Homo sapiens: one gene and its partner. The protein of the gene in region 2 purifies or fractionates together with the protein of the main gene of each other region. This does not show direct contact. Each region holds a gene or a part of one and is shown on either strand. Other genes may lie near its edges.

Evidence for each region. The genes of interacting proteins can lie anywhere in the genome.
Region 1: the proteins of NLRP3 (region 2) and RNF125 purify together in Homo sapiens (affinity purification with western blotting, with the first as the bait; one study listed by BioGRID). This does not show direct contact.

Annotation. Positions count from the first base shown.
Region 1 is NC_000018.10:32,063,608-32,068,167, reverse strand, and holds part of RNF125 (E3 ubiquitin-protein ligase RNF125), read right to left. Parts: intron 2,267-4,560; coding exon 2,159-2,266; intron 1-2,158. UniProt on the Homo sapiens protein: E3 ubiquitin-protein ligase that mediates ubiquitination and subsequent proteasomal degradation of target proteins, such as RIGI, MAVS/IPS1, IFIH1/MDA5, JAK1 and p53/TP53.
Region 2 is NC_000001.11:247,428,920-247,434,086, reverse strand, and holds part of NLRP3 (NACHT, LRR and PYD domains-containing protein 3), read right to left. Parts: intron 4,503-5,167; coding exon 4,332-4,502; intron 1-4,331. UniProt on the Homo sapiens protein: Sensor component of the NLRP3 inflammasome, which mediates inflammasome activation in response to defects in membrane integrity, leading to secretion of inflammatory cytokines IL1B and IL18 and pyroptosis.

The sequences.
Region 1 (4,560 bases), on a different chromosome or scaffold from region 2:
GCCTGTCATAGAACCCAGGACTTTTGCTTTGGGGCTAATGAATTTTCTACTTCACTTTGTTGTCTATCGATTAACTAGTTACTGTCATAATAAACAGTCTTGATTTGAAATTTGAAGTTTTTATCTGATATAATGAGAAGTTTTTAGTCACCATTACAAATCCTGGTCAGAGTGCTATGTTCCACATAAACCTGTAAAATGGAGCAAAGTTCAGGCTCCCCCACAGGCTTCACCAATGCCAGCAGTACCACTGAATGGCTACTTCTGAAGAAAATGTTAAAAACAAAACTTTCTCCTTGCCTCCTATGTGTCAAAGTGGAATTCAAAATTCTATGTCAGCACATTCTATAAGTAAAACAAAAACCATTAAGAACCCTATCCTCTGCAATCCCTCTCCTCTTCCGCAATAACAAAAGGTGAAATCTCTATTCAAAGTCCATTCTGCAATATAAAAACAAAACAAAAAAACCCCCACAAAATCCAAAGGAAAGTCATAAAGTACAGCAGAACACAAGGTTTGGTCTTGATACTGGCTTGTTCTTAGATAATTCAGTTAACCTTTGAGCTTCAGATATTTCAGTTAAATGAAGATAAAAATACAGTATTCACTTCACGGAAGTTGCTACAAGGAATAAAATGTGATATATACATATAGTGCTTAGCTTAGTATATAGTAGCTCAGGAAGCAAAAAATCAAAACAAAGAACACTACTTCCAGTTCACTTCCCTACCCAAGAATATGGCTGTGAGTGGCTGGAAAGTATTCCTATCAAAGTGGCTTCATCCTGCCTAGCTCTGGATCATGCTTTGTCTGAAAGATCTTGAGAACAGACTGAGCATGATTAGACAGAACAGCCATAGAATCGACCTGGCTTTTAGAACACCTCATAGAGCTAAGGTAAAGAGAAACCTCTTGAGACGGAGTCTCGCTCTGTCACCCAGGCTGGAGTGCAGTGGCGCGATCACGGTTCACTGCAAGCTCCGCCTCCCGAGTTCACACCATTCTCCTGCCTCAGCCTCCAGAGTAGCTGGGACCACAGGCGCCCGCCACCATGCCCAACTAATTTTCTTGTATTTTTAGTAGAGACAGGGTTTCACCGTGTTAGCCAGGATGGTCACGATCTCCTGACCTCATGATCCGCCCATCTCGGCCTCCCAAAGTGCTGGGATTACAGGTGTGAGCCACCACGCCCGGCCAAGAGAAACCTCTTTGTATTACCAGAGAGAACACATAGACCAGAACCAAGTTCTGTTGAGGCCTGTGTGCCATATGGGCCACAAAAGACATGCTTAGAGATATGGAGCTGAGAATTTAAAGCCTCTGTCATGTTCCTTGTTCAGTTCCTCAAGTGGTCCTAACAATTCTACTCCCATCCCATCTCCAATTTGCCTAACATCTGCACCTGAACTGTGCAAAGCACTTTATATACATTATCTCATTTAATCCTAAGAAGAATTTTGGGAGTAGGTGCTTTTAATCTCTTCCCTTAACCAGTGCACAAACTGAGTTTCCGAGGTTAAATACCTTCTGCAAGGTCGCACATATATGACAGAGCTATTGCTTAAAACTAGTTTAGAACCTGAGCTCCTTGTATCCAACCTGGATAATAATAATTGGCAGATAGAAAGCATGGAGAAAATTCTCAAATGACAATCTTCAATCGTTATTAAATTTTATCTTGAAATTGCATTTCATTTTTTTTTTTTTTGAGACAAAGTCTCACTCTGTTGCCCAGGCTGGAGTGGAGTGGTGTGATCTCAGCTCACTGAAACCTCTGCCTCCTGGGTTCAAGCGATTCTCCTGCCTCAGCCTACCGAGTAGCTGGGACTACAGGCGTGTACCACCATGCCTGGCTAATTTTTTTATTTTTAGTATTTTTAATAGAGATAGGATTTCACCATGTTGGCCAGGCTGGTCTTGAACTCCTGACCTCAAGTGATTCGCCCACCTCGGCCTCCCAAAGTGTTGGGATTACAGGCGTGAGCCACTGCACCAGGCCAAAACATTCTATTTTCATGATTTCTTACTTAATGCTAATACTCAACACTATAGCTATATACACATTTTTTCCTCTATAATTTTATTCACTTGGATCGGAAAGGTAAGCTTAACAAGACAGCATGAAAACATAATGTAAAAATAAGAAAATATACTTACTATGAAATCATCATAAAACAAAGTGTGACTAACTTGCAGATGTCTTATTAAACTGCCACTGAAGCTGCTTGGATTCTCATCGGGTATTAAACGGCAAAGTGGACAGAACTGGAAACAAACAAGACCAGGGGTTCAAGAAAGAATTTAAAATCGTTATTAGTGTTAGAATTAAAAACAACGGCTGGGCGCGGTGGCTTACGCCTGTAATCCCAGTACTTTGGGAGGCAGAGGCGGCCGGATCACCAGGTCAAGAGATGGAGACCATCCTGGCCAACATGGTGAAACGCCGTCTCTACTAAAAATACAAAAATTAGCTGGGCGTGGTGGTACGTGCCTATAGTCCCAGCTACTCGGGAGACTGAGGCAGGAGAATTGCTTGAACCCGGAGGCAGAGGTTGCAGTGAGCCAAGATCACACCACTGCCCTCCAGCCTGGCGACAGAGCAAGACTCCGACACACAAAAAAACAAAACAAGACGGGGTGCAGTGGCTCACACCTATAATCCCAACATTTTGGGAGGTTGAGGCGGGTGGATCACGAGGTCAGGAGTTCAAGACCAGCCAGGCCAAGATGGTGAAACCCTGTCTCTACTAAAAATACAAAAATTAGCTGGGCGCAGTGGCAGATGCCTGTAATGCCAGCCACTCAGGAGGCTGAGGCAGGAGAATCACTTTAATCTGGGAGGCGGAGGTTTCAGTGAGCCGAGATCTTGCCATTGCACACCAGCCTGGGCAACAAGAGCAAAACTCTGTCTCAAAAAACAAGACAAAACAAAACAAACAATAACAACAAAAAACAACAACAGGTAACCATTCAAAAATAAACTGTCAACTTTATTCATCCATTAGCCATACCTCAGTATTATGTTATAAAATTGCATAAACATGAAAGCAACATTAAGCAAATAAAATTACATGTCTTCATATGCATTTCTTGCTCATATGCATACATAACAATATAACTATTTGTTTCATATTCATCAATTTATTATTTAAACAATATTACAATTAATACATGTACCATAATTTACTTAATTAGTTTGCCTACCTCTTGGAATACTTGTTTGTATATGGATATTTTACTATCACAAATGAGAATAACTATAGTGTTTACCTTTTAGGGGATTAGTTCCTTAGGAGAAATGACCAGAAATGGCAATTACCAGGTCAACAATTATGAACGTTGGCCAGGAGCGGTGGCTCACTCCTGTAATCCCAGCACTTTGAGAGGAGGCCAAGGCAGGTAGATTACTTGAGGCCCAGAGTTCAAGACCAGCATGGCCAACATGGTGAAACCCTGTCTCTACTAAAAATACAAAAATGAGTCAGACGTGGTGGTGCACACCTGCCTGCTATCCCACCTACTTGGCAGGCTGAGGCAGGAGAATTGCTTGAAAAAAGATTTCACTAGGTTTTGCCTGTACTCATATTTTTCAGTGTGTGTGTGTGTGATATAGTTTGGAAACTTGTCCCCACCCAAATCTCATGTTGAAATGTAATCCCTGGGTGTGGAGACAAAAAAATTAGCCAGGTATGGTGGCAGCACCTGTAATCCCAGCTACTCAGGCAGCCGAGGCACCAGCTCTGTCTCAAAAAAAAAAAAAAAAAAAAAAAGAAAAAGAAAAAGATTTCACCAGATTTTGCCTGTACTCATATTTTTCAGTGTGTGTGTGTGAGATATAGTTTGGAAATTTGTCCCCGCCCAAATCTCATGTTGAAGTGTAATCCCTGGGCGCCGTGGCTCATGCCTGTCATCCCAGCACTTTGGGAGGTGGATCACTTGAGGTAGGAGTTCATGACCAGCCTGGCTAACATGGCAAAACCCATGTCTACTAAAAAGACAAAAAAATTAGCCAGGCGTGGTGGTGCACACCTGTAGTCCTGGCTACTCCAGAGGCTGAGGCAGCAGAATGGCTTGAACCCAGGAGGCAGAGGTTGCAGTAAGCCGAGATCGCACCACTGCACTCCAGCCTGGATGACAGAGTGAGACCCTGTCTCAAAAAGAAAAAAAAAAGGACTTGATGGATTAAAAAAAAAAAAAAGATACAGACCATTCTGTCACTGCAAAGGAATGTCAGTGCGTTGCTATCCTTTATTTCCTTCTCTCTCCCTAACCTCTGCTCTGTTCCCCATATTATTATTATTACTATTTCGAGAAACTTATATAAATAGAACTATACAGTATTTAACCTTTTGAGATTGGCTTTTCCCATTGAGCATGACTTTGAGATCCATCTAAGTTGCTGGGTGTATCCATAGCTCCCTCCTTATTACTGAGTAGTATTTCATGTATGGATGTCCCACAGTCTGCTTATCCATTTATTTTGTAAAGGGCATTTGGGTTGTTTCCAGTTTTTGGTTGTTAAGATAAAGCTCCAAGAAATATTTGTGTACAAATGTTTG
Region 2 (5,167 bases):
GAGGCAGAAAGCATCAGAACACACCTGACCAGAGAGCTCCAGAACAGAGGAAGCATCAGGACACACCTGATCAGGAAGCTCCGGAATAGAGAAAGCATCAGAACACATCTGATCAGAGAGCTCCGGAATACAGAAAGCATCAGAACACACCTGACCAGAGAGCTCCGGAATAGAGAAAGCATCAGAACACATCTGACCAGAGAGCTCCAGAATAGAGAAAGCATCAGGACACACCTGACAAGAGAGCTCTGGAATAGAGAAAGCATCAGGACACACCTGACCAGAGAGCTCTGGAATAGAGAATGCATCAGGACACACCTGACCAGAGAGCTCCGGAATAGAGAAAGCATCAGGACACACCTGACCAGAGAGCTCCGGAATAGAGAAAGCATCAGGACACACCTGACCAGAGAGCTCTGGAATAGAGAAAGCATCAGGACACACCTGACCAGAGAGCTCTGGAATAGAGAAAGCATCAGAATACACCTGACCAGAGAGCTCCGGAATACAGCACAAGGCACATTGGGAGGTCAGCCCCCAGTCTCCCCAGTCACAGCAGAGGGATCACCTGTCAGTGAACTCCCGGCCGTAAACAGTGCCGGGTGCATTGAGATCACCCCCCAGACATGTGAATGGTGCGCTCCTGGTTTGTAAGTGAAGCGGGCGGTGTGGGCCTGTGCACCCACCTCCTTCCCTCGTGTTCCTAACCATTGACGTGCCCGCAGTCGGCACTGCCCTCGCCAGTGCTGCACTCAGCTATTTCTTGTCTTCACCAACATTGTCACCCCATTGTGTTTGACGATTTCATCCCAGCCCTCCATCTATATTGAAAGGAAAAGCAGCTCTGATTCTTTTTCTTTTCTTTTCTTTTCTTTTTTTAAAGACAGGGTCTCACTTTGTTGCACAGGCTGGAGTGCACTGGCGAGATCATAGCTCACTGCCACCTCGAACTCCTGGGCTCAAGGGATCCACCTGCCTCAGCCTCCCAAGTGGCTGCAAATACAGGCATGTGCTACCATGCTTAGCCATTTTATTTTATTTATATTTTATTTTTATTATTATTATTATCTTCTAAAGACAAGGTCTCACCAGCTTGCTCAGGCTGGTTTTGAACTCCTGGGCTCAGGTGATCTGCCCACCTCAGCCTCTCAAAGTGCTGGGATTCCACATCCCGCTGCAGCTCTGATTCTTGATTAGTTTCCCCGTCACACACATGCACACAAACACACACGCACATCACTACCACCGTCACCACCACCACCAGCAACAAAAACTATACTTTATCCCTGTCATGGGGGCAAGAACAACATTCTAGCTTCTTTCCAGGGCAATAGTTCATAGGTCCTGGAGCCTGTTAGACCACCTTCCTTTCTGTCCCTATCCTTACACCAACTTCAAGCAAATGGACAAATGGATCTCTACTTCTCTGCGAAGCATCTCACTGTCCCCTACCCTTCCCTGTTTGTGTCTGCCTCTCCAGAATCATACAGGGGCAATGGCAGTGGGGAGAGAATTTGGGCATGAAGTTGGAGAAATAAGGTTAAATGTCCCAAACAACCAGTCTCCATGGCACTACGATTTGAAATTTACCAAAAGAGCAAAGATGAAGAGTGTGATCTATATACATAATGGAATACTGCTCAGCCATAGAAAAGAATGAAGTCACATCTTTGAAGCCACACAGATGGAACTGGAGGCCATTACCTTAAGTGAAACAACTCAGAAACAGAGTCAAATACCACACGTTCTCACTTACAAGTGGGAGCTAAACAAAGGGTAACATCCATAGAGCATGGAATGATAGACACTAGAGCCTCAGAAGGGTGGGAGGGTGGGAGCCAGGTGAGGGCTGGAAAATTATTTATTGGGTACAATGTTCACTATTTGGGTAAGAGTTACACTAAGGCCGGGCACGGTGGCTCACGCCTGTAATCCCAGCACTTTGGGAGGCCGAGGCGGGTGGATCACGAGGTCAGGAGTTTGAGACCAGCCTAGCCAATACGGTGAAACCTTGTCCCTACTAAAAATACAAAAATCAGCTGGGCGTGGTGGCCCATGCCTGTAATCCCAACTACTCGAAGAATTGCTTGAACCCAGGAGGTGGATGTTGCAGTGAGCCGAGATCACTCCACTGTACTCCAGCCTGGGCAACACGGCGAGAGTCCATCTCAAAAAAAAAGGGGTAGTTACAGTAAAAGCCCAGACACTACCACTGTGCAGTAACATATCCATGAAACAAAGCTGCTCTTGCGCCCCCTACATCTACAAAAATAAATACATAAAGTAAAAAATAAAGAGCAGAGCAGACAGAAAGCATTTAAGCCACCGAACAGCACAATCGAATCAGAATTTTCTAAAGGACCATCTTACTTTTGTGCAGAGAATGGTCGGGTGAGGGAAAAAGGCAGACACAGGGAGACCAAAGAGCCAACATTCATTCAGTGCGTGCTTTTGACCACTGATGGGTACTAAGATGTCTGTCCAGGCGTGGCAAAGATGACAGCAAGACAAACAAACGCAAACCCCATCCCCGGGGAGCTGATGGTCTAGGAGGTCACTGCGTGTCCAGGCAAGTGGTGACAGTTGCTGGACCTGGGCTGGTGGGGTGAGGACGAGGAAAAGTGGAAAACAGCTCGGGTAGGAGGAAAAATTGATAAGACTGGTGACAAGGTGAGTGTGTTGAGCCGGAGAGGGAGGTAGCAAAATGTCCTAGAGTGGCGGACTTTAACACTTGCTGTGCAGCTCCTCAAAAATGCAGACGCCTGCATGCGTCCACAGAGCAGGGAATGAAACAGAGCTAGTGAGGCGGCCCAGGCACCAGCGCGGTGGGGCGTGTGAATCTGATTCATGGTGTGGGAGAAAGCAAGCACATTTTTTATTATTATTATTATTATTATTATTTTGAAATGGAATCTCGCTCTGTCACCCAGGCTGGAGTGCAATGGCACGATCTCGGCTCACTGCCATCTCCGCCTCCCGGGTACACACAGTTCTCCTGCCTCAGCCTCCCGAGTAGCTGGGACTACAGGTGTGAGCAAGCACATTATTAATAAAGTCACAGGAGATTCCCTGTGACATTTCAACCCATACAAAGCATTCTGACCAGGCTGGGCAACGTGATGAGACCACATCTCTACAAAAAAAATACAAAAATTAGCCAGCATGGTGGTGCATGCCTGTAGTCCCAGCTACTCGGGGGAGCTGAGGTGGGAGGATTGCTTGAGCCTGGGAGGTCGAGGCTGCAGTAAGCTGTGATCACACACTCCAGCCTGGGTGACAGAGAGAGGTCCTGTCTCAAAGAAAAAAAAAAAAAGTATTTTCATAGTTTTTAGGTGAGGTTGCCATTGTTGTAAATGGCAAATTCTCCAACTCTCATCTATGAACATGGCCCATGAGGAAATGGAATATATCGAGCATCATGGTTGTTTCAAGAAATGACTTTTTTTTTAGTTCCTCATTCATTCTTCCCCACACAAAACTTCCCCAGCTGGCCTCCAACCCATTCTACCTTCTCACTTGTTCTGGGCTGAACTGTGCCCCCCCAAAAATTTACATGTTGAAGCCCTAATCCTCAAGACCTCATAATGTGGCTGTTTTGGGAAATGGGGTCTTTAAAGGAGTGACTAGATTAACATTAGGTCTTGTGTAGTCATGCCTGACTGTGCCTAATCCATCAGGACTGCTGTCCCTGTAAGAAGAGGAGACTAGGCCACTCTTCCCCCCAAGGCAAGATGGCATCAGTACACAGGGAGAAGGGGGCATCTACAAACCAAGGAGGGCGGCCTCAGAAGAAACCAACCCTGCTGACACCTTGATCTTAGACTTTCGGCCTCAGAACTGCAAGAAAATGAATTTTTGTTGTTGAAGCCATTCAGTCTGTGGCACTTTGTTACAGCAGAAACCACACCACCGGCCGGGTGCGGTGGCTCATGCCTGTAATCCCAGCATTTTGGGAGGCCGAGGCGGGCGGATCACCTGAGGTCAGGACTTCGAGACTAGCCTGGACAACATGATGAAACCCCATCTCTACTAAAAATACAAAAAATTAGCTGGGTATGGTGGTGGGTGCCTGTAATCCCAGCTACTCAGGAGGCTGAGGCAGGAGAATCACTTGAACCCAGGAGGCAGAGATTGCAGTGAGCCGAGGTCACGGCATTGCACTCCAGCCTGGGCAATAAGAGCAAAACTCTGCCTCAAAAAAAGAAAAAAAGAAAAAGAAAAGAAAGAAACCACACCAGCAACCTGGTCCTGAAGATCTTTCTCCAGTCTGTTTCTCTCTCTCTCTCTCATATGAACTTGCACTCACACAGATCACATGCACGGGGACTCACCACAATCTCCGAATGTTACAGCCAGGATGCTGGAGCGTTTCACACAACACTCTCATCCCTGGGTCCCCCAGAGAATTGTCACTGAGGTCCAATTCAGTTAGACTCTGGCTGGTGCTCAGAACTGAAAAGAGGCCCCGGCAAAAACTGGAAGTGAGGTGGCTGTTCACCAATCTAGGAATTAGAAGGAAGACAGACAGAAAAGAAATCAGCCTCGAATAATAACTAACTGGAGCTGGGGGCCGGGGTGCCTGGCACCAGTTCAGAGAAATGCCTTCCGGGGATTAAGAAATGGGTCACGAAACCAAAAATTGTTCCCAGAGAAATGAAGAGGGCTGGATGAGCCTTGGTAAAAGCAGTTCTGCCTCCTCTCGGACGGAGAGCATGAGCCTGTGACTGTGGCGGACTGTGGCACCCTACAGCCTGCTCCCCAGTGTCCTCCTCTCGCCCTTACCAGTCCACTGTCCCAACATGGCCCTGAACGTTCTGTGCTGGGTGATCAGAGGGCAGTCCTCACTCCTGGCTACACAACAGCATCAGGAGTGCTCACAAAAATCCTCAGGCCAGGCTGGGCATGGTGGCTCACACCTGTAATCCCAGCACTTTGGGAGGCCGAGGCGGGCAGATCACCTGAGGTCAGGAGTTCAAGATCAGCCTGGCCAACATGGTGAAACCCTCTCTCTACTAAAAATACAAAAATTAATTGGGTGTGGTGGCACGAGCCTGTCATCCCAGCTATTAGGGAGGCTGAGGCAGGAGAATCACTTGAACCTGGGAGGTGGAAGTTGCAGTGAGCCAAGATCATGCCACAGCACTCCAGCCTGGGCAACAGAGCAAGA